4 linked regions of the Homo sapiens genome follow. The protein of the gene in region 1 purifies or fractionates together with the protein of each later gene. This does not show direct contact. Each region holds a gene or a part of one and is shown in the gene's direction. Other genes may lie near its edges. The genes, in order: RBM28, KNOP1, ZC3HAV1 and MAK16.

Region 1 (7,025 bases):
GGAGGAGTTAATTCAGCTACTAACACCCTGTGTGACATTAACCAATTCACTTACTGTCTTCCATCTCAAATTACTTACTTGGAAAGAAGGGGTGATAATATTTGCTTTACCTATTTTGAGGTGTTCTAAAGATAAAATGAGACAAGAATGCACAGCTGCTTTGGAAAGGTTTAATTTGATATCGACAGCTAAGGCGTTGGTAATAGTGGTCATAACATCTGCAGTCTCTCTGAGCAGTATTTATTGTTTGAGGTTCTTTTGTCTGGGCCTCAGGCATTTATTGCTGATCTATTTTGAGGAGTAACTGCATTATTGTGTTCTGATTTTTGAAGCTACCATACTGTCTTAATTCATTTTCTGTTGCTTATAAGAGAATACCTGAAACTAGGTACTTTGTAAAGAAAAATTTATTTCTTAAGTTCTGGAGGCTGAGAAGTCCAAAGTTTAGTGGCTGTATCTGGTGAGAGCCTTCTTGTTGGTGGGGACTCTGCAAAATGCCCAGACAGTGCAGGGTGTCATGGCGAGGGGGCTGAGCATGCTAATGTGCTTGCTCAGGTCTCTCTTCCTCTTCTTATAAAGCCCCCAGCTCCACTCTCATGATAGCCCATTAATCTATTAACCCATTAATCCATAAATTGATTAATCCATTCCTGAAGACAGAGTCCTCTGATCCAGTCACCTCTTAAAGACTCCACCTTTCAATACTGCTACATTGGGGATTAAGTTTCCAACACATGAAATTTGGGGGACACATTCAAACCATAGCATATACTTACCTTTCCTGCCTTCTTTGGTGATGTTTTGTTCTTTTTGATGTTGAGTTCTTTGAGGGCCTCATATGTCATGGATTCTCTGTTTTCTTGGGATTATCAAGAAAGGGGGAAGAAGGGGAGCTAACAGCAAAGACACTAAATTAAAAGAGGAGGAAGGCTAACAGTTTCTAAGCAAAGTGGGGAGGGAACCACTGATACCACCCTTGTTTCTCGCCCTCCTGAGACTTTTGGCAAACTGATAGCAAGATGGGTTGGCAGTATATCCTCTAGCTTAGGCTTTGAGGATTTACTCATTTAGTGCTCTTGGCTTATGATTCTCTCTCCTTTTCACACTGCCCCTCCACTCCCTCCCCACTCCATTATTCCAGGGAGTAAGGCATGTCGAGGCTTTGGCTATGTCACTTTTTCAATGCTGGAAGATGTTCAGAGGGCCCTCAAGGAGATTACCACCTTTGAAGGTTGCAAGATCAACGTGACTGTTGCCAAGAAAAAACTGAGGAACAAGACAAAGGAAAAGGGGAAAAATGGTGAGTTTCTAGTAATTGAAGGAAGTTTTTCTCCCAGGGTGAGGAGGAGCACTATGAAAATGAAAGAGGGAGGCATGGAGGTAGCTTCTAGAACTTAAAGCTTTTTGCATTTCTTTTTGATCTCCAAAATCATCCAGTGTATTGTGATACTCATTTTAGTTCTTTGGAAAAATCTGGTATTCCTTGGTATTATTGCCACACTTAACCCTGTGGTAAATGCCATCTGTCGCCAGTAGCTTTTTTTTCTGTGATGTTCTGGCGTAGAAGTGGGTGATTTTCGAGTACTTATTCCATTACCTCTTATTTTTTAGAAAACTCAGAGTGCCCAAAGAAGGAGCCGAAGGCTAAAAAAGCCAAAGTGGCAGATAAGAAAGCCAGATTAATTATTCGGAACCTGAGCTTTAAGGTAAGTGAGAGAGAAAATGAACATTGCATGTTTTGAAGGCTTTTAGAGCCAAGATGTGATCATTAGTAGAACTCCTCACCAAGATGGTATAATTGGGCTTAATTCCTTCTGGGAATCAACCTTACCCCTGTTGAATTCAGAAAGTGGGCCTGTGTAATAAGGGCACTAAGTGTGAAGCTGCTTTCCTTTTTGGGGAAACTACTACTGAGAAAGAAAAGGTAGAAAAAGTTCTCAGACGTCTGTGTTTTTGCCTCTTAGGTACAAAGTAAAATGTCTTCTATTTAGAAACATTTGATGTCCTAGTATCAAAAATAAAAAAAAGTAAACATTCATGTTTTTCATAATTAATGAATTTAGTAGTTGATGTTTTATGTTAATTTGCTGTGATTGTGTTTCTCTTTTTCTTTCTTCACTTTTGGCTTCAGTGTTCAGAAGATGACTTGAAGACAGTATTTGCTCAATTTGGAGCTGTCCTGGAAGTAAATATCCCTAGGAAACCAGGTACTAATAAACCTTCACTTGGTGTGGATTACGTTAGTTAACATATTACCCTTGAACAAACATATATGATATATATGAAGTATTTGGCACAGTGCTTCACATCTAATGAAAACCCAAATAATGGTTTTATTCCCCTGATGATATTTTCTGTTGGATCAGAATTAGTTTTAGAAGGCGAGTTAGTTTGAGAAAGTGTTTTGCTCTCCCCAAGTCCAAGTCAGAGTATACTCAGTAAGAAGATGTAAGCAATTGCTTTGGGGAAGGGCCTGACCTGCTGGCAGAATTTGGGCCATCTTGTGGGCCTGAATTGCAGTAATTTACTTCTTAGTATTCTGGCTACCTCCTGCTGCCTCTCACTTCTTTCTTTGTGCATTTGCACACAGATGGGAAGATGCGCGGTTTTGGTTTTGTTCAGTTCAAAAACCTCCTAGAAGCAGGTAAAGCTCTCAAAGGCATGAACATGAAAGAGATAAAAGGTAAGCTTTCTATACCCATATCATTGACCCAGATATTTCTGGTGTTTTGGTGAATTAGTGTAGTAACCCACTTTCTGCATTTTCAAAAGATGTTTGCATTATTAAGAGTCTCATTGCTAATACGGTAGCTATTTAGGTGAAATACTCTAGAACTTGATCTTGGGGTTAAACTTGAAAGAACCCTTGCCAGTATTCTTTCTTTTATCTGGTGAGAGTGTCCTTTTAAATCCCTAGTGAAAAATGTCCCTGAGATAATTGCTGATAGATGCAGGTTGGTATCTAGATTCCTCCTTGGTTATATCACTGTTCAGCATCTGTGGGCTATTTATTAAACTGACTGTGATTTATATATTGACTTATCAAGTACTGTGCCTAAAGAAGTTATTGCCGGCCAGGTGCGGTGGCTCACACCTGTAATCCTAGCACTTTGGGAGGCCGAGGAGGCAGGTGGATCACCTGAGGTCAGGAGTTCAAGACCAGCCTGGTCAACATGGCGAAACCCCGTCTCTACTGAAAATACAAAAATTAGCCAGGTGTGGTGGTGCATGCTTGTAATCCCAGCTACTCAAGAGGCTGAGGCAGGAGAATCGCTTGAACCTGGAGGCGGAGGTTGCAGTGAACTGAGATGGCACCACTGCACTCCAGCCTGGGCGACAGAGCGAGACTGTGTCTCAAAAAAAAAAAAAAGAAGTTATTGCCGTAGAGATGTCCTAGCTTCCAGGTAGGGTGCAGATGATTCCAGAATGCCTGTTTTGATTCCTGATAGTCTAACTGGAAACATAGTTCTAATTCTTTATTTTTTTACTCCATCTTATCCCAGGTGTGGTGGCTATGTAGAAAGGCAAAATTTCTGTTCATTGATAAAAAGGTTAAGGGTTAAAAGGAGTAGGCAGTGACTAGGAGCTTTATTTTAAGACCAGCATTCCCTGAATTGGCAGTTTCTTTGTCTCCACTGGTTCCATTATTGTCTGTGATGACTAGGGGTCATTTACAGAGGTAGGGTTTTTAAAAGGAGAGCCTTTCTGATGCCACTTTTCTGCTTGACAGGCCGGACAGTGGCTGTGGATTGGGCCGTGGCAAAGGATAAATATAAAGATACACAGTCTGTTTCTGCTATAGGTAAGATGTGGTAGTGTTGGGTGAGTAGGGGCGTTGTATAACCTGGGTGAGAGTATTGAAACAACTCCTGTGTTCATGATAAAAGTGTAAGAAAAAGGCTGGGTGCAGTGGCTCTTGCCTGTAATTCCAGCACTTTGGGTGGATTGCTTGCAGTCAGGAGTTTGAGACCAGCCTGGCCAACATGCAAAACCCCATCTCTACTAAAAATACAAAAATTAGCTGGGCTTGGTGGTGGGCGCCTGTCATCCCACCTGCTTGGGAGGCTGAGGCAGGTTCTTGAACCTGGGAGGCAGAGGTTGCAGTGAGCCGAGATCACCCCACTGCACTCCAGCCTGGGCAACAAAACGAGACTTCGTCTCAAAAAAAAAGTGTAAGAGAACCTGCTTATCAGAGTAAGACTATTGTGGAAGATTAACCAAAAGAATGAGACTGGGCTTTCAGGGAAAACTCTGAATTCCTGCTGGCTCAGAAGTGAGTCCAGGTCTGTTTGTCAATTCATATTGTACCATTTGGTGCTCTGGTCCCAAAACCTAGGCTCTTTTGAGTCTAAGCCCCTTCCTGGGAGTGGCTGTGAGTGAGCCTGAGTTCACTGTCCCCTTTACTTGCTGTTGTTTCCAGGCTGTGCATAATAGGAGTGATGGAACATTAAGAATAGAGAAACTTAAAACTTGAGGTTTATTTAGAAAACAATTGGCTGGTAAGCCACCAGGGTCTCAGAGAATAGAACGCACTGAGATTAAAGTTCATGGCTTGGCTTTGCCCCCTAGTGAGCATTTTGCTGGCTATGATGTACGAATGGTAGACTGCTTGGAGAGGCTCAGTTGCCACTTCTTTCAGTCTGGGCCAGATGAACCTTCAGACTGATGAATGGGACAAACTCTAAAGGAATCTGGGTGTTGAGAGTTTTGTTTATTTCTGTTTTTGCTTTTTCTTTTCTTTATACTTTCTCCTGTTATATGCAGTAAGAAAAATATACGAAATTCTGTAAAACCGATGAAACCAAGAACTTGGAGTATTGGTTACTTTTGTTAAAATAACATTGTTTTGGATATTAAATGAATTCCTCCTTTCTTTACCTCCCTCCATAGGTGAGGAAAAGAGCCATGAATCTAAACATCAGGAATCAGTTAAAAAGAAGGGCAGAGAGGAAGAGGATATGGAAGAGGAAGAAAACGATGATGATGACGATGATGATGATGAAGAAGATGGGGTTTTTGATGATGAAGATGAAGAGGAAGAGAATATAGAATCAAAGGTGACCAAGCCTGTGCAAATTCAGAAGAGGTAAGCAGCTCATCCTGTTCTGAGACAGCAGAGGAAGATTCAAGATTGTCTCCGAGAGGAAAAATTCTCCTTTTTCTGCCTGCATCATTGCAGAATTGACATGTGTAATGAAATTGAATAGGCCCTCTGTCAGCCCACCTCCTTAGTTCTGATCTGTGCCATTGCAGAGCAGTCAAGAGACCAGCCCCTGCAAAAAGCAGTGATCATTCTGAGGAGGACAGTGACCTAGAGGAAAGCGATAGTATTGATGATGGAGAGGAACTGGCTCAGAGTGATACCAGCACTGAGGAGCAAGAGGATAAAGGTTTGTTTGGATTTTCATAAATGTCTTTAGACTTTAAAAAAGTTACTGAAGTTACGGAAATGAGCATCAGTTCTGCTTAGATCTCTTTTTAAATAGGACTCTAAGGTGTTCTATCAAATTTATGTTTAAATGCTGAAAAGGAAACCTTTATACTCCTTTCTTCCAAAGGTTTTTTTGTTGTTTCCTTTTTGTTTGTTTTGTTTTTTAAGTGAGTTTTGGAGTGGTGTTTGAGGGTTAAGATTCTTAGGGAATTGAAAACCTAGCTTAATGCTGAGGTTCTACCTCTCTCTGGATTGTCCAACTTGATAGAATAACCAGGTAAACAGCATCTTATACAGATAATATAGATGAAACAGATGATATAACCATCTCAACATCAAGCTAGATTTTAAACAACTCCTTGGAGTTGAGATGGGGATAAAGAACTGTTTAGTCAGTTTGGACTGACATAACAAAATACCATAAACTGGGTGGCTTAAACAGCAGAAACTTATTTTCTCACAGCTCTAGAGGCTAGAAGTCCCAGGTGCCAGCTGATTCATTTTGGGTGCAGCTCTCTTCCTAGCTTGCAGACTGCTGCCTTCTCGCTATGTGCTTGCATGGCCTTTTCTTTGTGGCTTGACGAGGGGAGAGAGAGAACAAGTAACAGTGAACTCTGGTCTCTCTTTTCTTATAAGCACAGCAATCCTATCAGATTAGGGCCCAACCTTAAGACCTCATTTAGCTAGCCTCAGTTACCTCCCTAAAGTCTCTGTCTCCAAATACAATTATATTTGGGGTTAGGGCTTCAATGTATGAATTTTGGGGGAACACAGTGCGTTCCATAACAAGGACCTCTTTGAACATGTTGTAAAACTTTAGCCAATCCTTATTGCTACCTTTATTGAGAATAAATTCAACTTGTTTATTGAGGAAGGCAGGTCATTACAGAATGAGAAATGGCTAATAACTGGTTCTTTGATTTGTCTGGGTGGAGATTTTTATTTCAGCTGTTTTTATTCTGATTCCATTTCAGTAAGTCTGACATGTTGGTTTGACCATATAAGAAATCTGAGGAAATAAGCTTTTTCTGTGAGGAGAGAATGGTATACACCTTAGAATCAAAGAAGCTTCTACACTGAAGGGACTCTGAGATCCTGTATTCTACAACCCACAGTCAGCTGTCTCATGCCATTCTTTCACCTAAAAAACTTATAGGACAGATAAATGATAATGATAAAAAGTTAAAACACAACACAGAAGAGTGTAATACACAAAGTAGAAGTTTCTCACCAATCCTAACAATTCCCTGAAGTAATCACTGTTGTTTCTTGTGCATCCTTCCAGATATTTTCTTTGTATGTATAAGCTTATATGTCTGTTCTTGAAAACAAACAGTGAGTCTCCCTTATACCCAGATCCTCAGCTTCTTAGGGAACTTCCCCAGAGACAACCAAGGTTATTTGTTTCTTGTGTATCTATAGATATTTTAATACATTTATAAGCAAAATGCACACATATACACACACATATACACATTCAAAATGTAGTGTATTTTATAATTTGTGTGTGATTGTATGTGTATGTTTTTTCCTCAAAGTTTCCTATGTCCTATACAGTATTTCCAGAAAGTTTACACTGTCATAGTAGTATATG
Region 2 (7,249 bases), on another chromosome or scaffold:
GAGGATATAGGGTCATGGTGGAGGTTTCTTCCTGATATGACAGGCCAGGGGTGTTTGGAGGAAAAAGCTAGTAGAGAAGTTAAAGGCGTAGCAGAGGAAGTGAGTGATAAAGCAGGATCCTGGAATAGCAAGGGGACGGTAAGCAAAGATGGAGAGCTGAGTGGCGAGTAGCGGGGTGAGAGCTTCTTCCACGTGTACAGATGGATGTTAGCAGACTCCCTCCCCACTCCTGACTGCCTGACTCTTCTCAGTGAACGCATCCTATGCTAAGAGGTATCACAGAACATTTCAGGAGGTGTTACAGACTTGGACTAGTAGAACCAGGCAATGGGAGAAGGCATTGAGAGATGCTGATTGCTGAGCAGTGCTGAGAGCCAGTTGGGGTCATCTTTCTTCAGCTGGCTCAGTGGCTGTGCTGGAGGAACAAGTATTGATTCACAACTGATCCATGTCGGTATCTGGCAGGTGAAATGAAAGGCCAGATTTTACAACAGCATTGAGGGCTGAGGCCAGAGAGTGCTTGATTAAGTGATGAACCAATGACAATAGTGAGGATGCTGATAACAGTAATCACAGCATATCAAAATAGGAAACTGTAAGGCCAGGCGCGGTGGCTCACGCCTGTAATCCCAGCACTTTGGGAGGATGAGGCGGGCTGACTGCTTGAGGTCAGGTGTTTGAGACCAGCTTGGCCAACATGGCAAAACCCCATCTCTACAAAAAATTAGCCAGGCATGGTGGTGGGTGCCTGTAATCCCAGCTATTTGGGAGGCTGAAGCAGGAGAATTGCTTGAATCTGGGAGGCAGAGGTTGCAGTGAGCCGAGATTGCGCCACTGCACTGCAGCCTGGGTGACAGAGCCAGACTTCATCTCAAAAAAAAAAAAAAAAGGAAACTGTTAAGCCCCACATCCTTTGATTGTCTTGATTAAAACCATGAACACAGCTAGTCACAAACTACTATAAGATTTGATTAGAAGTGTTGGCCGGGAAGAAGTTTATTGACACTAACACGAGTGCTTTTTAGAATACAAAACTCAGTTGTCACTGGAAAGATGAGGGAGAAAACTGAAGAATATTTACAAATAAGTTATAGTGGTGAGCATGCACATACATACAAAAGAGCACTAGTCAGGTTGGTTAAGGTCTGTGTAAGTTAGATATTGACCTACTTTGTATTTTGTCTTCATGAAATTGAGTTTCTGGCAGGTCTGTTTGCTATGATAATTTGTCTTTTGAATGGAGATTATCTTAAGAGAATGTAGTACTTAATCTCAAAGATAGGATTACTACAAAGCCTGTTTTTTCATGTTTGTTGTCAGAAACTGAATTTACTACATGTTATAGAAAACTGCATTTGTTAGATGTTTAAGAATTGGGTTTATCCATCTGTTATAATACTCATCACAGTGTCCATGTGTATAGTTTGCCAATGTTGACCTCACTGAATTGTTTTTTTTTTTTTTCTAGACGGATTCTTACTTTGTTGCCCAGGCTGGAGTGCAGTGGCACGATCTCAGGTCATTGCAACCTCCGCCTCTCAGGTTCAAGCGACTCTCCTGCCTCAGTCTCCTGAGTAGCTGGGATTACCCACCACCAAGCCTGACTTAGTTTTTATATTTTTAGTAGAGACAGGGTTTCAACATGTTGGCCAGGCTAGTCTCCAATTCCTGACCGCAGGTGATCCACCCGCCTTGGCCTCCCAAAGTGCTGGGATTACAGGTGTGAGCCACCATGCCTGACCTCATTCTGTAACTCTATCATTTTAAAAGTGGCATCAATTCACTTGCTCTTCAGAGAGAACCAAAACCCTTTGTCTTTGCTTTCTCTCTAGAGGCCTATTTGACCAAAATAAACTCGGTGTGTAAATCACAACACAAGGCATGTTTCTTTGTCAACAATAATGAACATTTATTGACTACTTTTTAAATGCCAGGCACTGTGCTAAGCACCTTTTCATACATTATCTTACTTGGTCCCCACAACAGCCCTGTGAGGTAGGCACAACAATTATCTGTCTCTTACAGATGAGGCTGAGTAACTTTTCTAACAATCCTCTAGTAAACTGTATTATAAGAAACTGTTTGGCTTGGAGAAGTGAAAGCTCTGGGGAAAAGGCAGCCACAATAACTACCGTCAAATTATCTGAGTAGATTCTTTGGGGTAGAGTGATTAGCTCCTTGGATCATAGCACCAAGAGGTAAGGACGTAGGGGTGAAAGTGACAAAGAGAACATGCAAAATGAAAGGGATTTTTCTAGCACAATGTAAGGTTGGAGAAGGAATTTAAGTACTGGATGGGGTTGAAACAGACAGCTTTGGAGGGCATCTATCAACTGAGTCTACTATTCTCTTCCTTCTCTGTATTCTCCACTTCTTTCGAGTCATCGCATATACTGGTACATTCATTCTTTTTTTCCATTCAATAAACATTTACTGACCTGCACTATCCAATACAGCAGCCACTATCCAAATGTGGCTATTTAAATTTATTAAAATTAAGTCTGGGCTGGGCCTGGTGGCTCAGGCCTGTAATTGTAGCACTTTGGGAGGCCGAGGCAGGTAGATCACCTGAGGTCAGGAGTTCAAGAGCAGCCTGGCCAAAATGGTGAAACCCCTTCTCTACAAAAATAAAAAAATTAGCCAGGAATGATGACGGGTGCCTGTAATCCCAGCTACTCAGGAGATTGAGGTGTGAGAATGCTTGAACCCGGGAGGCGGAGGTTGCAGTGAGCCCAGCCAGTGCCACTGCATTCCAGCCTGGGCGACAGAGCAACATGCCGTCTCAAAAAAAAAAAAAAAAAAAAAATTTGAGTCCAACAAGAAATTCAGTTACTCAATTGCACTAATCACATTTCAAATGCTAACTAACCACACTTTTTTTTTTTTGGGGATGGAGTCTCGCTCTGTCACCCAGGCTGGAGTGCAGTGGCGCAAACTCGGCTCACTGCAACGCCACCTCCCTGGTTCAAGCAATTCCCTTTCCTCAGCCTCCCAAGTAGCTGAGATTATAGGCGCACACCACCACGCCCAGATAATTTTTTTTTTGTATTTTCAGTAGAGACGGGGTTTCACCGCGCTGTTTCAGGCAGCTTAGGTAGTGATGGTGGCCACACGAATGAAAAATCTGAGTCCTTGACCTTGAGGAGCTTATGGTCTAGTGGAGGAAAAAGAAAACATCCCACCCAACATTATTCATTAAGAACTAGCGCTTACGTAGCTCCTTCTGTAAATCGAGCAGTTTGTGTTTTTTTTTCCCCAATAATCCTTTTGCCCTCCTAAAATCAGGCAGTTTGCTAAGCACTTTTTGTGACTATCTGGTTCCATCTTCTTAACACCATCGAAATAGGTGCCATTATTATGCCCACTTTGCAGACAGGGTCATAAGTTAAATAATTTGCCCAACCTAAGTAACAAATACTGAGTAGAGCCACAAAGGAAGATGTGCTCAACTCCGCCTGGGGAGGTTAAGGAAGGTTTGAAGCAAGAAGGGACTAAAACCCGTTTGTCCACACCATGGTTACTGAACGTGTGGGCCACCGACTACCTACGTTAGGATTACCTGGGGTGCTCTTTTAAAAAGTGCAGATTCCCTGCATCCCAATTTGAAGCTCTGTGGGCGGGGCCTGGGAACCTCCGTTTATAACAAGATCCCCACCCCGGCCCCCGCCCCAGCAATTCCTTTCGGTTCACTAACCGAGGTTTAAGAACCAATGGTCCACACCGCATGGTTCTCTTTATTCAGCTTTCCCTCGCCGTTCCCTTGCCTTTAACCTCACTACGGATCGCGATTGGAGTCCGCGCTGCGTAACCTCGGGCCAGCCTCTCCGAGCCTCAGTTTCCCCATGCGTAAAATGCGGAGCCCGGGCCCGCGGAGCCGCTGCCCGGCGGCCCCGCCCGTCAGCCGACAGGCGCACAGTGGGCGCTCCCCAAACGCGGCCCCCGTCCGGCCGCCCGGGTCCCGCCCCTCTCGGCCAGCCCAGGTTTCCTACCCTTGCAGATCTGCTCCCACAGATTCTTGCTTGACGGCTCGGTGACCTGCCACGACGAGACAGGCAGCTCGCGGGACGCGAGAGACACGGTGGGCACCGGCGTCCGGGTGAACGACGAGTCTGTAGAGCAGCTGGGCTTGAGGCGCACTATGTGGCTGGGGATTTGCCGCGGTGCCGCCATGGCCGCGGTTTCCACGGTAACCGCGTTCGCCGGAAGGCCGCGACCCGGAAGAAGCCGGAACCCGAGAGGGTGGGCCGGCGACTCGAAGTGGACTTCCGGGTCACGGCGGAGCTGGCTCTCACGTGGAGGCGGGGAAATTTCGCCCACCGGTGAGTGCCAGGGCGCGTTGCAGGCGGGCCGGCGCGGGGTGTGGAGATTGCACCAGAGGAAGTGCGCGGCGGGGAAGATGGGGAAATGCGGTCCACCCACATCCCTGAATCCGACCCCTCCAGTCGGTGTGCGCCCGCTCCGGCCTGAGGCCGCCGCCTCCAGAAAGTTTTCCCGCCTCAGAGCCGGCCCTGGGACCCCACGTAATCCCTCCCAGTCTGTTGATGCGGAGGCTTGGGCCCATGGGAGCCTTGGAGGTACGGATCTTACTTCCTGGCTCCCGCGCGTCCTGCTGGTGATCCTGCCGGGGGAGTGGGGTGTTGCTGCACAGGCTTTGGAGTCCTGTGGGCGGAATTCCAGTCTCCGTTTTCCACTTGCTGGCTTTGGAACCTAGGGCAAGTGAATTATTGTAGTCTCTGGAGCTTGCGAGGTCGGGTATTCACAAAGATCTTCACAAGGCTGTCCCTGGAATTTAAAAGCGGTTTTGGAGAAAGCGTTTGCGTTTGCAGGAGATGCACTGTAACGTTCTTTTCCTTTCTCCTTGAAAGAGTGAATGCATTTGGTCGCAGGGCTAAAGAGGAGGATGCTATACTTTTCTAAATGGCAAGAGATGGGGAGAGAAGGGGATTAAGAGTTGACCCGCAACCTCCCGGTGGATTCTTTGTTCTTACCAGATCTCTTGGCCACTCCCCTATTCTGAAGTCGTCTTGGCTCTCTTGACTGCTCCCCTATTCTGAAGTCGTCTTGGCTCTCTTGACTGCTCCCCTATTCTGAAGTCGTCTTGGCTCTCCTGACTACACTATTTCAAGGTTTGCACCTTCTTCTTTGCAAGCTCCTTTATCTCTGCCCACTTATTTAAATGCCAATACAATAGTCCCCCTCCCCCATTATCCGCGGGCAGTACGTTCCTAAACCCCCAGTGGATGCCTGAAACCACAGACAGTACCGAACCCTAAATATAACTGTTTTTTCTTGTGTATACTATCTATGAGAAAGTTTATAAATTAGGCACAGTAGGGCCGGGCGTGGTGGCTCATGCCTGTAATCCCAGCACTTTGGGAGGATGAGGCGGGCGGATCACCTGAGGCCAGTAGTTGGAGACCAGCCTGGCCAACATAGTAAAACCCCGTCCCTACTAAAAATACAAAAATTAGCCGGGCGTGGTGGTATGTGCCTGTAATCCCGGCTACTCGGGAGGCTGAGGCGTGAAAATTGCTTGAACCCGGGAGGTGGAGGTTGCAGTGAGCCGAGATGATGCCACTGCACTCCAGCCTGGGCAACAGAGCCAGACCTTGTCTCACAAAAAATTAGGTGCAGTAAACGATTACCAACAATCTAGCTAGTAATAAAATAGAACAATTACAACAGTATACTGTAATAAAAGTTGCATGCATGTGGTCTCCCTCTCAAGATAACTTCCTGTACTGTGCTCACCTATTTTGGGACCAGGGTTGACCAGGGGTAACGGAAACCTGGGATTAGGTGGCGAGCTACTGTATTTCTTGAAGTCTTGTCTCAGGCTTGTTCTGTTCAAGGCTTATCACCACCCATACATTCCTAACTTTATGTCGCCCGTGTCAGCACGGCCACCCAAACTCCTCATCCATATATATTCACCTGTCCAGTGAACATCTCCAAGTCATCTGTCCAATCAAGCCTGTTCTTCAGCCACTTGCCTTCAGTACCTTTGTCTCAGGGATTAATACCACCATCCTGCAGTTGTTCTTCAGAAATTTTCCTGACAACTGGTAGGACAGGTTCCACAACCTCCACCACCCTGACCTTAGCACTGTCCTTGCTTTTATCACCTGTATCATTGTATTACACCTTATTCCCTCCCACACCTACTTGCTTCTTGATGGGTGGTGTTTTATCTTGTTCATCTCTGTATCCCTAGCATGTGTGCATTCATTCAGTGAGTATGTATTGAGCACCTGCTATGTGCCAGGCACTGAGCAGGACACTGGAAATAAACCAGGAAACAGGGCAGACAGCAATGAATGAGTATAGTTATTCCCTTGACTCTCCAGGTGCGCCTGGAGTGGGTTATGAATGAACTTGACCTGTAGCTCAGGCCTGGCTCTTTGAAGCTGCTAAGAGAGAGCCAGCTCCAGTGTGGACCCTCTGAGTTCCGAAGCTGAGGAGGGCTGCAGGATGGAGAAGTTTTTCCTTTCCCTCCCATGATCCTAACTTGCTATGAAATATTTTGGGATATTTTGCTTCTAGATTCTGGGAATGTCTAGTGCAGGAACTTGGCTGGGGACTGGAGTGAGAGCAGTGGTCCAGCTGGACACTGATGGGTATTGAGGACCCCAGCCCATTCTCACAGGTGCTTCCACGATATCTGTCCAAGACAAGCTGGGTGCCCTCAGTACTGTGCATCATTGTGACTCATTCAGTGTTGGCAATCAACTTCAAATTTTAAAAACAGTGGAACTAGGCCAGGCAAGGTGGCTCATGCGTGTAATCCCAGCACTTTGGGAGGCTGAGGCGGGCGGATCACTTGAGGTCAGGAGTTTGAGACTAGCCTGGCCAACATGGAGAAACCCCGTCCCTCCTAAAAAAGAAAAAAAAAATTAGCTGGGCATGATCACGGGTGCCTGTTATCCCAGCTACTCAGGGGAGGCTGAGGCAGGAGAATCACTTGAACCCAGGAGACGGAGGTTGCAGTGGGCCGAGATCACGCCACTGCATTCCAGCTTGGGTGACAGAGCAAGACTCTGTCTCAAAAAAAAAAAAAAAAAAAGAGAAAAAGAAAAAGGGAATTAACAGTGTACCAAGCCCTTTCCATGGGTTATCTCATTTACTCCCTCCAACACCCTTTTGAGGAGGGAGGTGTTATATTCCCCCATTTTCCAGATGGAGAAATTGAGGCTCAGGGAGGTTAGCTGATTTACTTAAGGTGAGAGAGGCATTTAGGTTTGAACCTAGG
Region 3 (7,025 bases), about 11 Mb from region 1:
AACCCATCAGTTTCTTACAGGTCTATCCTATGTTAGAATTCAAACAAATATTTATCCTAAAAAATGAAATGTTAGGCTAGGCACTGTGGCTCATTCCTGTAATCCCAGCACTTTGGGAGGCCGAGGTGAGTGAATCACCTGAGGTCAGGAGTTTGAGACCAGCCTGACCAACATGGTGAAACCCCCCCATCTCTAATAAAAATACAAAGTTAGCTGGGCGTGGTGGCACATGCCTGTAGTCCTAGCTACTCGAGAGGCTGAGGCATGAGAGTTGATTGATCACAAGAAGGGGAGGCTGCAGTGAGCTGAGATCCTGCCACTGCACTCCAGCCTCAGTGACAGAGGAAAACTCTGTCTCAAAAAAGAAAAAAATAAAGCACTCAGAAATGTAGGAATAGAAATGAACTTTCTTAACACAATAAAGGGAATTTTAAAAAAAGAAAATATAGATTCCAGATTATATAAGTGTGATATAAAAAAACTGATGCAACAAAAACAAAAATGGACAAATGAGATAGCATCAAACTAAAAAGCTTCTCCACAGTAAAGGAAACAATTAACAAAGTGAACAGACAAACCCACAGAGTGGGAGAAAATATTTGCAAGCCATACATCTGATATGGGATTAATATCCAAAATATGTAAGGAACTTAAACAATTCAACAGCAAGAGAACAAATAACTCAATTTTAAAATGTGCAAGCTGTTCCCATAAGTGGCCTGCGGTGATCTGTGAAAATGGTTCACTATTCACTTGACCCAGAAAACTCCATGAAATCATGCAAATAAAGAGGTTCAAATCTTCATGTTCACTCTAAGGACACCCATGAAACTGCCCAGGCCATCAAGAGTACGCCTATATGAAAAGCCAGCAAATGTCTGAAAGATGTCACTGTATGGAAACAATGTGTACCATTCCAACGTTACGAGGGTGGAGTTGGTAGGAGTGCCCAGACCAAACAGTGGGGCTGGGCACGCAGTTTGTGACCCCAAAAGAATTGAATTCTTGCTGTACACACTTAAAAATGCAGAGAGTAATGCTGAACGTAAGGGTTGAGCTGTAGATTCTCTGGTCGTCGAGGATATTCAGGCGCACAAAGCACCCAAGATGTGCCACCAGACTTCCAGAGCTCATGGTTGGATTAACTCATGCCTAAGCTCCCCCTGCCACATAGAGACAATCTTCCTGAAGAAGCACACCGTGTTCCTAAACCAGAAGAGGAGGTGCACAGAAGAAAAAGCTATCCTAGAAGATACTGAAGAAGCAAAAACTTACAGCACGGGAATAAATTCAGCGTAAAATACATGCAAATAAAAGTTTCAAAAATGGGCAAAAGACTTGAATAGACATTTCTCAAAAGAAGAAATACAAATGGCCAATGAGTTCATGAAAAAATGCTCAACATCGCTAATCATCAAGCAAACGCAAATTAAAACCACAATGAGCTGTTGCCTCGCACCGATTAGAATGGGAGGCTGAGGTGGGAAGATTGCTTGAGCCCAGGATATCAAGGCTGCAGTGAGCCAAGATTGCACCACTGCACCCCAGCCTGGGTGACAGAGACCCTGTCTCAAAAACAGCAGCAACAACAACAACAACGAAAAAAAAAAAAAAAAAAGGAGAGAGAGAGAGTTGGATGTACTGACATAGCAAGATTTCTAGGACTAAAGTGGAAAAAAAAGTTGTAGAACAGTTCATATATTATGATCCTATTTATGAACAAGTAAACCACCATAAACCACCATATGCACATATATGTATGTGAATGCATAGAAACAGGTGTGAAAGAATTCCCGCCAGCCATAAACTGTTTTGGGAAGGGGAGTGGGATTGGACGTCGTAGGTCAGTATAGGTAGACTTCCATATTTTACTTTAAATATAGTAGAACATCATTTGCACAGAATATCTAGTATCTGACCTATTCAGGATAAGCAATGTTTCTGGAATTCAAACATCTAACTATAAAATGATAAAAAGAACAAAAACAAAGTAGATGGGAAGTATATTAAACATTTGTTACCACAAGTAAAACAATTCATTTTACTTATTGATTCTTGCATGGAAATAGGAGTTGCAATATCTACTCATGGTCTTTAAAACGACAGAGTAGCTTTCTTAGAAAATATTATTAGTATTTTTTGATACAGAATCTCACTCTGTTGCCCAGGCTGGAGTGCAGTGGTATGATCCTAGCTTACTGCAGCCTCAACTTCCTGGGCTCAATCAATCCTGCCTCAGCTTCCTGAGTAGCTGAGATTACAAGTGCACGCCACCATGCCCGGCTAATTTTTAAATTTTTTGTAGAGATGGAGTCTCCCCATGTTGCCCAGGCTGGTCTCAAATTCCTGGGCTCATGTGATCCACCCGCCTCAACCTCCCATAATGCTGGGATTACAGACATGAGCCACTGCACCTGCCCAGAGTAGCACTTGACAATGATAAAAATAAAAATTTTAACTTGGCAGGAAATTGTTGGTCTGCTGTGTATGGAAGCAGCAATCGTTATCTGAGGTTGTTTTAGAGTTGAGGACGAAGCATCAACTGACTCATCAGTTCCAAGTTTGCTCATTCAGCTCACACTGGGTGAATTGCATGAATTGGGCCACTGTGACATTGTCATTTGGTCATTGCACCCAATGGCTCACACTATCAGCATGAGCTCTGCACTGTAGCAAATATTCCTCAGTCATTTCTATAGGGTTATATACTGTATTTAAGTTCGCCTGCATCATTAACATGTTTTTAAGTGCAAAGGAAAGTTTATAAATATCAGTAAGGTATTATTGACATATGCTTAGTCCACACCCATCTGACTGTATATAACAAATCTTATAAACTGTATACCTTCTTTTATAATATTTCTTAACTTTTCTTTCTGATTCTTTCTAGGAATTTACTTTGCAAAAGATGCCATCTATTCCCACAAAAATTGCCCGTATGATGCCAAAAACGTCGTTATGTTTGTAGCCCAAGTTCTGGTTGGAAAGTTTACTGAAGGAAATATAACGTACACGAGCCCTCCTCCACAGTTCGACAGCTGTGTGGATACCAGATCGAATCCCTCCGTTTTTGTCATCTTTCAGAAAGATCAGGTTTACCCACAATATGTGATTGAATATACTGAAGACAAAGCCTGCGTGATTAGTTAGAACCGATGAATACAGCGTCAGAAGGATGCCATAACCATTCTGTTCCTTTACAGAACTAAATTGCCGCAGACAGGAGTTAAAGTTTTATATTTTCCTGCTCAGTTATCTAATGTCTTAGATCAGTGGTCCCCAAATTTTGCTACATATTAGAATCATCTGGGAGGTTTTAAACAAATTCTGATGCCCAGGTTGCACCCCATGCCAATGAAATCATTTCTGGGCGTCAGCGCCAGGCAGTTGTATTTTTTTTTTTTTTTTTTTTTTTGAGACTGAATCTCACTCCATCGTCCAGGCTGGAGTGCAGTGGCGCGATCTCGGCTCACTGCAACCTCTGCCTCCCGGGTTCAAGCAATTCTCCTGCCTCAGCCTCCCGAGTAGCTGGAACTACAGGCACACACTGCCGCGCCCAGCTAATTTTTTGTATTTTTTAGTAGAGACAGGGTTTCACTGTGTTGCCCAGGCTGGTCTCAAACTCCTGAGCTCAGGCAATCTGCCCGCCTTGGCCTCCCAAAGTGCTAGGATTACAGGTATGAGCCACCATGCCCGGCTGGCAGTTGTATTTTTTAAAGCCCTTCTGATGATTCCAATGTGTTGGAAAGTTTACCTTGTCTCAGATGTAACTGGTAAAGGCTGATTTCTAAATTTTCTGTAATTGCAGCAACCTTTCTCTCCTGTCTACCCTTTTAGTTTACTGTATGCCATGGTTTTGTTTTGGTTACATTGAAAGAAAGTTAATTTGGAAAATTTGGGAGAAATCTAATCATGCCTATTAAGGATGTAAGACATTACAGCCTTAGAAGAAAGATTGTGAAAAGCTGGGGAGAAAATGCTTAAGGACATGCTAGGGGAAAAAAAAGTAAAATTGAAGTGCTATTGCAGACATGGCTGCAGTACTGTACCTTATCATTCTGATGAAACTGATTTGGAGCACCCTTTTCTTTATCGCTACATTTATTTAGGGGACAAACTCCATCCAGGTTGACTCTCTCTGGAATGCGGTAATAAGAGCTGGCAAGTAAGGCTCAGAGAGAAGCAACCAACTGGAGTTAATTGCCCATTTGGGCTCTTTGTATAATTATGGCAAAGTAGACATTTATGTTCTAATTAATATGATTACAGAGAAGGCTTTTTCTCAGGTCAGGCTTTTCATGAAAGTATTTTGAGAACAATGAATTGCAATAACCAGCTTCACACAAGCATAACTGATAAACGCGAGTGCTATTGTAGTCTTGGCAAGTGAGCCAAGAACCTAGGAGCAGGGCCATTCCTACTGAAGGACGGGCCCCCTACGGAGATGAAATTTGTTTCCTGGTGAGCACAGAATCAGAACAAAGAACAATATCCCAAAGAGGCCCTGTGTCTACCAGGAGCTTCTTTTTCCAAATGTAATGGATTATGTGGAATTGTAGTGCCATCGGTTTTTACTTAGAGCCCTTGACGTGCTTGGACCAATATTTCCTTCCTTCTTATGAACCAGGTTTTTCCTTCTGATTTTCCCTTTTCAACATTCCTTACCAGTCACCAAAGTTTCCTGTTATAATTTCTTTTAGCAGACAAGTTATAAGTCAGATTTAATTAGCATCAGAGTTGATTTTATATTAGTCAGATTTTGGATCATCACAGAGATCTCCACAACTCCTTGGCTTAAACAGCTCCACCGGTAAAAAAAAAAAAAAAAAAAAAAAAAAAAAATAGTTTTTTTAGAGTAGAGTTATTTTCTGGGAGAGTTACTACAAATGCTTATTCTCATTGACTTATTTCTTTCATGGTAACTTTCGTTTTGGAGTGTTCATTTTCTGAACTTGACCCTCACATTGTAGGGGTGCAGTTTGTCCAACTCTTTCCAACAGCCCATTAGACACCACTAGCTGGATATTTCACAGGCATCTTTGATTCAATATGTCCAAAGTGGAACTCTCCATCTACCTCCCTCACATGAACCTGTTCCTCTCTCAGGATCTGTATGTAAGTGAAAAGCATCACCATCTACCCATTGGCTCAAGCAGAAATCTGGAAGTCATCTTTGACTCCTTCCTCTCCCTCCTGATAAACATCTAAGCAGTTTCTAAGTCTAGTTTTACCTCTTAAATATCTCTGTTCCCTTCTAAGTTGTTTGCTGTGTTTTCTTCAGAGCAAGAAGGTTATATTTTTTAAAATTTACTTAGTAATGCACATTCAAAACACACATCAAGTCTTCAGGATAAAGTTCAAAACCGCTGTCATGGCCCCATGTGATCTCTCCCTCCCCTACCCCTCTATCATTTAGTTTCTTCTGCGCAAGCCACTCTGGCTTCCTTTCAGTTTTGTGGTTCCCATTTTTAGCTAGTTCAGTGGTTTTCAATGGGCATTTCTGCCTTTTTTTTTCTAAACGACAAATAGAAATACATCTTCTTTATTATCCTCCAAATCCAATTCAGAGGTAATATGCTCCACCTACACACAATTTTAGAAATAAATTAAAAATTAAATAAAACTAATATGAACATAAAGAGGAAATAAAAGGTACCTAACTTGGGCACAGCTGTAACTGAAGACCTAATGAAGTAGTCAGATGCTTACAACTATTTATAATGCATCAATTTGAACTTAGAAGGTAGGAGATCAGATCATATGTGGGAAAATGTAAAAGCAGGGATATCAGTGGGCATTAGAATAAAAACTAGGGATACAATAACTTCTTTGCATATGACAATACTTATTTGTATATAAGAGAAAGAACGAAATAACCTTTATTGAAATAAAGATACTATGCAAGAAAATGTACAGTTGTCGAAGTGGAGAAAATGAGGATATATTCTTGCAGACGAGCTATAGGTCATACATGAATGTCTAGTGAGACATTCAAAATTCGTATAGGGTGCAGAGTAATTTCTTATTGTGAGGAACTGTCCAATGTATTGCAAGATGTTCTGCATACTTGGCTCTCACATACTAAATGCTAGTAGCGCCCCCACCCCCACGCCCAGTCACGGTGACAACCACAAACCCTATCAGATCTATTCACCTTTTTCAGAGCAGATATTTTGTAACATTCTCTTTGCTGACCTGAAATGACTCATAGATAATACAATCTACTTACACACATGAATTTCTTAAAAAAATCAATTTAATGCCCTAACTCTCTTATTAAGGAGAAATAGAAAAGAAGAAATTTATAATGAAAAGAAGATGAATTTCATTATGTAAACGCTCAGGCATGACTACGCTGTTTGAAACAGACAGATGTTTACTCTTCCTTGTAATGAGTAGGTTTGGATTTAAGAGCCGATTAGAGGCTACTTCCTGTAAACAAGTACAGGAAAATGAAACTAGACGGGTGGGGGACACTAGAATGAAAACCAGTGTTAGGGTAAAGACAAAACAGACTATGTACATAATCTGTATATGGGAAAAGAAAGAGCGAAATTACCTTACTTAAGGATAATAGGACAAGACAAATTACAGATTGTCTCAGAGAAAACAAATGAGTTACTCTCTCGGACAAGCTGTAGGTCCTACCTAAATGTCCAGCAGGACATTAGACAGTCGTACAGGGTACAGAATAATTCTTCGTTGTGTGGCACTAACCCACACACTGCAGGACATCGTTCTCCCTGGCTGCATCCACTCAGTGCTGGGAGTAGTCCCCAGTTATTATGAAACCACCAATAACCCACTGACCACAGTGAGAACCACTGATTTTTTCCACTGACCTACTGAATATCTAGCATCCTTAGATTGGCTCAACTGTTACTTTCCTAAGGAGTCCTTCTACAGAATAGGTCAGATCTTGGCCTCCCAAACCCCTTATTTTTAAAATACTTTGCGCCTTGCTTTGATAATTTGTATTATGTATCCAAACTGAAATTATCTGCTTTCTGCATTAGAATGTAAGC
Region 4 (7,233 bases), on another chromosome or scaffold:
GAACCCTGAAAGTTAATAAAGAAAAAAAAAGAAAGAAAAAACAAAATAAAGTGATGCTAGACCTCTGATAATGACTCCCATTTCTTCCAGCTAGTCATTACATTTACAGAGAGAGGTTCTTTTTTTTTTTTTTTTTTTTTTTTTTTTTTTTTTTTTTTTTTAATGAGATGGAGTCTCTGTTGCCCAGGCTGGAGTGCAGTGGCGCAATCTCGGCTCACTGCAAGCTCCGCCTCCTTGGTTCAGGCAATTCTCCTGCCTCAGCCTCCCAAGTAGCTGGGATTACAGGCGCCCAGCACCATGCCCAGCTATTTTTTTTTGTACTTTTACTAGAGACAGGGTTTCGCCATGTTGGCCAGGCTGCTCTCAAACTCCTGACCTCAGGTGGTCCACCTGCCTCAGCCTCCCAAAGTGCTGGGATTACAGGCGTGAGCCACAGTGCCTGACAAGATTTATAGAGAGAGGGTCTAAATTCATTCCTGCACATCTCTTCCTTTTGGGGAGCTCTGTGGTTCTGCTAAAACAACAACAAAAAACTATGTATTTTTCTTCTCCTTAAATGGTTTATTCCTCTGATTGTATACAAGCAAACACACATGCTTTACAGATGAGCAACTTTATTAGGTTTAATCCTCCAACAAGCTGCCTTCCACACTTCAGGGTTTCGTGTGTGTGTGTGTGTGTGTGTGTGTACACTTCATAGGAAACCTGACTCTGCCCAGGGTTAGCTCTGGGAAAAGTTGCTGTGGGAGTGGCTGAAGGTGGCAGAGGCCTGGAAGGTAAGACAACGGAGACCCTGTCTCTAAATAAATAAGTAAATAGAGACCTAACAACTAATTTATTGTGAATTTATTATGTACCAGGAACTGTACAGGAGATTGTGGATAAAGAAATGAAAAGACATCATCCTTAATCTTGAAAAGCTCAACGTTGGCCTGGCTTGGGCGCTCACACCTGTAATCCCAGCACTTTGGAAGGCCAAGGTGGGCGGATCACCTGAGGTCAAGAGTTTGAGACCAGCCTGACCAACATGGTGAAACCCTGTCTCTACTAAAAATGTAAATATTAGCTGGGCATAGTGGAACACGCCTGTAGTCCCAGCTGCTTGGGAAGCTGAGGCAAGAGAATCGCTTGAACCCAGCAGGTGGAGGTTGCAATGAGCTGAGATCGCACCACTACACTCCAGCCTGGGCAACAGAGTGAGACTCTGTCTCAAAAAAAAAAAAAAAAAAAAAAAGAAAAGAAAAAAAAAAAACAGAAAAGCTCAAGGCCTAAGAGATAATAAACCAATAACAATAATACAACACTAGTGAGGAATACATAGTGCACTGTGGTAACAGAGGAGAATGCGGGTATGTATAGAGAATGTTGAAATAGCATTACATTTTCTTATCTTTTCTTTTCTTTTTTTTTGAGACTGAGTTGCGCTCTGTCACCCAGGCTGGAGTGCAGTGGTGCGATCTCAGCTCACTGCAACCTCTGCCTTGTGGGTTCAGGCAATTCTCTGCCTCAGCCTCTCGAAGAGTTGGGATAACAGGCACCCACCACCACGCCCGGCTAATTTTTGTATTTTTAGTAGAGACAGGGTTTCACCATCTTGGCCAGGGTGGTTTCGATCTCCTGACCTGCTGATCCATCTGTCTTGGCCTCCCAAAGTGCTGGGATTACAGGTGTGAGCCACCGCACACGGCTAAATTTTCTTTCATTCTTCTTTTGAACTGGAGATTACTTTTTGTTTGTTTGTTTTTTTAATGAGACAGAGTCTCGCTCTGTCACCCACGCTGGAGTGCAGTGGCGGGATCTCGGCTCACCGCAAGCTCTGCCTCACTAAATACTACATAATATCATGATAAATGCTTTTAAACTTTATATCAAATTTCTCATGTGTTTCAGTTGCAGTCAAATCCAGGGTATCCCTAGGGTGACCCCAGTGAGTCCCACTCCCTGGTGTTCATGTCTTGTATCTTCTCCTCCCCTCCAGTGAGGGTGGCACCTGTGACTTGATCTAACCAATGGCATAAGGCAAAGTCTATGGAAAGTCACTGCCATAATTTTTTAAGATTATTTAAGATTATTTAAGATTAACATTATTTAAGATTCTGTTTTAGCAGACTGGAATTTAACTCGTTGCTGGCTTGATGAAGTAAGGAGCTATGTTGAGAAATCCCATGTGGCAAGAAGCCACAGGCAGCCTCTAGGACCTGTGGGTGGCCTCCCGGACACACGCCATCCTTACTGAGACTGTGTCCTTCTTACACTTTTGTTATTAAAATGGTCTTGTTACTGGAAAGTGGTCCCCAATCAGACCCAAGAGAGGGTTCTTGGATCTTAAGCAAGAAAGAATTTGAGGTGAGTCCATAAGTTTCGTAAAGTGAAAGCAAGCTTATTAAGAAAGTAAAGGAATGAAAGAATGGCTACTGCATAGGCAGAGCGGCACCGAGGGCTGCTGGTTGCCCATTTTTATCGCTATTTGTTCATGTATTTTTTGAGACTGATTCTTGCTCTGTTGCCCAGGCTGAAGTGCAGCGGCTTGATCTCAGCTCACTGTAATCTCTGCCTCCCAGATTCAAGTGATTCTCCTGCCTCAGCCTCCCAAGTAGCGGGGACTACAGGTGCCCACCACCACGCCTGGTTAAGTTTTGTATTTTTAGTAGAGATGGGGTTTCACCACGTTGGCCCGTCTGGTCTTGAACTTCTGACCTCGGGTGATCCACCTGCCTCGGCCTCCCAAAATGCTGATTACAGGCGTGAGCCACCAAGCCCAGCCTATTTATTGATTATATGCTAAACACGGAGCGGATTACTTACGCCTCTCCTTTTTAGACCATATAGAGTAATTTCCTGATGTTGCCATGGCATTTGTGGCGCCAGTGGGAGTGTAGCAGTGAGGACGACCAGAGGTCAAACTCATTGCCATCTTGGTTTTGTGGGTCTTGACTGGCTTCTTTACTGCAATCTGTTTTATCAGCAACATCCTTATGACCTGTATTTTGTGCTGACCTCATCCTGTGATTTAGATGGCCTGACCCTCGGGAATGCAGCCTAGCAGATCTCAGCCTTATTTTACCCAGCCACTATTCAAGATGGGGTTGCTCTGGTTCAAATGCCTCTTGACAGTCTTTCTTTCCTTTTCTTTTTTCTTTTTCTTTTTTTTTTTTTGAGAGGTAGTTTTGGTTGTCACCCAGGCTGGAGGGCCACAGCATGATCTCGGCTCACTGCAACCTCCGCCTCCCGGGTTCAAGCGATTCTCCTGCCTCAGCCTCCCAAGTAGCTGGGATTACAGGCACCTGCTACCACGCCCGACTAATTTTTGTATTTTTAGTAGAGACGGGATTTCACTATGTTGGCCAGGCTGGTCTGGAACTCGCCCGCCTAGGCCGCCCAAAGTGCTGAGGTACAGGCGAGAGCCACCGCGCCCGGCCCGGCCGACAGTCTTTCTTCTATAATACGATACAAACTAGTAAAGATTTTCTTTTTCCCCTGGCGGAAAAGAGCTGTTAGGCTTCCAGATTTGTTTTTGTGGGTTATTAGACCTCTACTTTTCTTCTTGGTATTTTCCCTCCCTTATCAACTTTGTTTGTTGTCTCAAATAGGCAATGAGGAAGACACAGGTGTTTATTATTATTGGAATGCTCTTTCCATTTGGTCAGTGGTTTCTCAAAGCAGGAGGAATTCAAGTTCTGAGTTTCTAAAGTCAGGACCCGGTGCCGCACCCAACGTGGGCGTGGGGAGTGGCTAAGTCAGGGTCTGAGGGGCAGGGCCGGGGCCTGGCTGCGAGCTGGGGCCGGGGGACTCGGAGGAGCGGGGACCCAGCCCCGCCGCGCCGCCTGCAGCTTTCCCCAGCCTCCTCCCAGCAGAGGGGAGGCCCGACAGGGAGGGGTCCCATCCTCATGAACGGTCACAAACAGGGCGCTAGGGAAGCACGCCCGACCCCCGCGGTCCCCGCGCTCCAGGATTCGGCAGACTGCGCGCGTCCTGCCTCCCGCGGATCGCACTGGGTCCCAACAGGGTTCCCAGCTCCAGGCTGCGCCCATGAACAAGCCCAGCATTGCGGACGGGCGCGCGCAGACGCCAGCGTGGTGAAGACGCGGGGGCGCGCGCGCGGCGACGAGACTGCCAGGGGACGCTTCGCAACACCGAGAGTCTCAGCGTTTCTCGAGATAGGTGAGGCTGCGCGTTCCGGAACTGGTTTCCCGGAAGGAGCATGTCTGCGCCCGCGATCCGACCGGAAGTTGCACGCTGAGCCGCGGACACCATGCAGTCGGATGATGTGAGTCTCCTCCGGTTGTTCTTACACCCGGGGTTTGCGCAGGGAATTTTGCCCATTTTCGGACACTTAGAAAACGCGTACGCAGCGGGTCTGTTGCCTCGTGCCGCTCTGGATGTGAGGCTTCCGGAACCCCGATTTTCCAACATAGGTTCTCACGCGTGTCTAGCAGGGGTTTACTGCCCGCTGCCCCGGCCGGGTTGTGAGCACAGGACTCCGTCACCTCAGCCCATGGGGTCGATGTGTCCCGTCCTTCGTGCCTACCAATGCAGGACGTCGCGTCATGCTGTCAGCTGTCAGCTGTCAGCTCCGGACTTGGGGTGGGGGGCGGCCCGGGATTTGGCGAAGCTGACTCCAAGTTTAAGCGTCCTTCTCATCCATGTGCGCGTTACTCTTCCATCTGCGTTTCCTGTGTAGGCTTTTCTTTACATTTGCTCTACTTCTGCCTAAGTCATAATTTCGGAAGTATCCTAGATTCATTCATTGAGTTTTTTGTTGGAGAAATAACAGTGTGCTTACAGTGTGCCAGGCATTGTGGTAATTATTGAGGATTTGGTTAACCAGAAAAAATGTCCCACCTCTCCTGGAACACTGATGGGGGAGACACAGTAAACAAGTGAACAAATAAGTTAACAATTACACTATATAATCATACTATGAAAGAAAGACCAGAGATGATGAAGGACACTTCAGATAGGGTTACTCAGGGAAGGTTTCTCTGAACAGAAGATGTTTGAGTTGAGATCTAAAAGATAAGAATAAGCCAGTCACTGAGGAGCTGAGGAAAAAGCAATCCAGGCAGTAGGAACAGTAAAGTACAAAGAGTTGAAGATATGAGAGAATGAATATAAGGGTCATCAAAGTGACAATGTAAGACAGGTAATGAAATTAGATATGCTTGCCAGGGCGAGGTCATGCAGAATCTTGTAGGAAGTGTTTTTTAGGCCTTTTAATGATCTATGTTTGTGAAAAGTTGTCTAGTTGCTGTGTGAAGGACTTTTGGAGGGAAAAAATGAAAGCAAGGAGACTAGGGTATGACAAAGGTTGCTTCAAGCCAGACACAGTGGCTCATGCCTGTAATCCCAACGCTTTGGGAGGCTGGGGCTGGAGGATCGCTTGAGGCCAGGAGTTCGATTCCAGCCTAGGCAATAAAGTGAGACTCCATCTCTACAAAAAATAAAAAATTAGCTGGGCGCGGTGGTGTTCGCCTGAGGTCCCAGTTACTTCGAAGGCTGAGGCAGAAGGACTACTTGAGCCGAAAAGTCCGAGGCTGCAGTGAGCTATGATGGCACCACTGCACTCCAGCCTGGGTGACAGAGAGACCCTATCTCTAAAGTAAATAAATTTTTTTAAAAACGAAAGTGGCTTCGCCTAAGGTAGTAATTTAATGGTGGAGATGAAAAGAAATTGATGAATTTGAGACCTTTTACGTCAGTATAATTGACAAGACTTTGGTGATGGATTAAGTGAAGAAGAAAAGGAAGAAATCAAAGGATTTGGGATATAAATACATAGTTAAATGGTGATTTTATTTATTGAAGTGGGGGAACTCTAGGGAAGACTGTTCTTACGAGGGATGTGGAATTGAGAACTCCTTGTGGATATGTTAATATTTATGTTGCCTTTTAGATATTGAAGAGATGTCATATAAAAATCTGGTGCTCAGGAAAGAAGTCTGACCAGAAAATAACAATTTAGGAGTCATCCATTTAGAGATGATACTTAAAGCCACAAGCCTAAAAGAGCTCCCTTATTCTTCTTACCTGTTTCCTACCATCCCCCACCAGACACACCTATAAAATTCTTAAAGTGTGTTTTATTCTTTTGCCCTCTTCATATTTTTCCTTTAACAGTGGTAAAGCTTTTTTTTACCCCAGTTCCTCAAGGCAGCGCACTCAAAGGCTGTCATACTCTTACGCATGCTATGTGGCCTTTAGACCTGCTATTTTGTGATACTTTGTTTACATATCTTTCCCCTAACTAGATAGACGAAACTCTTTAAAGAGTATACTTTCTTTCATTCAGCAAATACTTAAGTGGCTACTGTGTGTCAGGACTTGGAGATGTCAGTGCCTTACATAAATTAAGTATATAATGCTGAATGAATAAAGAGCACATTAAGTACAGGAGGATAGCAGTAGATAGTTTTCTTTGCCCTCAATGAGATAAAATTATGGTATGTATATCTAAAAATCTAATACCATGAAGCCTTTTTTTTTTTTTTGGAGATGGATTCTCACTCTGTCGCCCAGGCTGGAGTGCAGTGGCGTGATCTCGGCTTACCGCAACTTCTGCCTCCTGGGTTCAAGCGATTCTCCTGCCTCAGCCTCTCAAGTAGCTGGGATTACAGGCACCTGCCACCACACCTGGCTAATTTTTCTATTAGTAGAGATGGGGTTTCACCATGTTGGCCAGGCTGGCCTCAAACTCCCAACCTCAAGTGATCCGCCTGCCTTGGCACTCAAAGTGCTGGGATTACAGGTGTGAGCCACTACACCCGGCCCATGAGAGCCTTTAATAATGGATAATGAACATAAGTAAAAAGGGAAAGTTACGAAGTATATAAAATGTGATTTCACAGAGTATGTCAAAAAAAGTCTGGAAAAATATTTACAGAATAGTAATGAAATTTTATCTCTGGGTAATGGAGTTATGATTATTGCTCATCTGTATTTAGCTTTTCTATAAGAATCTGCTGGGCTTTTTTGTTTTGTTTTGTTTTGTTTTGAGACGGAGTTTCACTCTTGTTGTCCAGGCTGGAGCGCAATGGCACAATCTCGGCTCACCGCAACCTCCCTCTCCTGGGTTCAAGCGATTCTCCTGCCCCAGCCTCCCGAGTAGCTAGGATTACAGGCATGCGCCACCATGCCCAGCTAATTTTGTATTTTTAATATAAACAGGGTTTCTCCATGTTAATCAGGCTGGTCTCAAACTCCTCACCTCAGGTGATCCGCCCAACTCAGCCTCCC

What was found.
Region 2: the proteins of RBM28 (region 1) and KNOP1 purify together in Homo sapiens (affinity purification with mass spectrometry; 2 studies listed by BioGRID and IntAct, with this or other methods). This does not show direct contact.
Region 3: the proteins of RBM28 (region 1) and ZC3HAV1 purify together in Homo sapiens (affinity purification with mass spectrometry; 2 studies listed by BioGRID and IntAct, with this or other methods). This does not show direct contact.
Region 4: the proteins of RBM28 (region 1) and MAK16 purify together in Homo sapiens (affinity purification with mass spectrometry; 2 studies listed by BioGRID and IntAct, with this or other methods). This does not show direct contact.

Annotation. Positions count from the first base shown.
Region 1 is NC_000007.14:128,333,908-128,340,932, reverse strand, and holds part of RBM28 (RNA-binding protein 28), read left to right. Parts: intron 1-1,141; coding exon 1,142-1,300; intron 1,301-1,611; coding exon 1,612-1,706; intron 1,707-2,131; coding exon 2,132-2,207; intron 2,208-2,590; coding exon 2,591-2,683; intron 2,684-3,730; coding exon 3,731-3,802; intron 3,803-4,890; coding exon 4,891-5,086; intron 5,087-5,253; coding exon 5,254-5,390; intron 5,391-7,025. UniProt on the Homo sapiens protein: Nucleolar component of the spliceosomal ribonucleoprotein complexes.
Region 2 is NC_000016.10:19,715,228-19,722,476, reverse strand, and holds the start of KNOP1 (lysine-rich nucleolar protein 1), read left to right. Parts: upstream 1-4,249; 5' UTR 4,250-4,319; exon of another isoform or gene 4,320-4,396; coding exon of another isoform or gene 4,397-4,574; exon of another isoform or gene 4,575-5,126; intron 5,127-7,249. Other genes in the region: IQCK (IQ domain-containing protein K), read right to left, coding at 3,990-4,170.
Region 3 is NC_000007.14:139,043,719-139,050,743, reverse strand, and holds part of ZC3HAV1 (zinc finger CCCH-type antiviral protein 1), read left to right. Parts: intron 1-2,890; coding exon 2,891-3,150; 3' UTR 3,151-7,025.
Region 4 is NC_000008.11:33,480,955-33,488,187, forward strand, and holds the start of MAK16 (protein MAK16 homolog), read left to right. Parts: upstream 1-4,227; 5' UTR 4,228-4,252; coding exon 4,253-4,267; intron 4,268-7,233.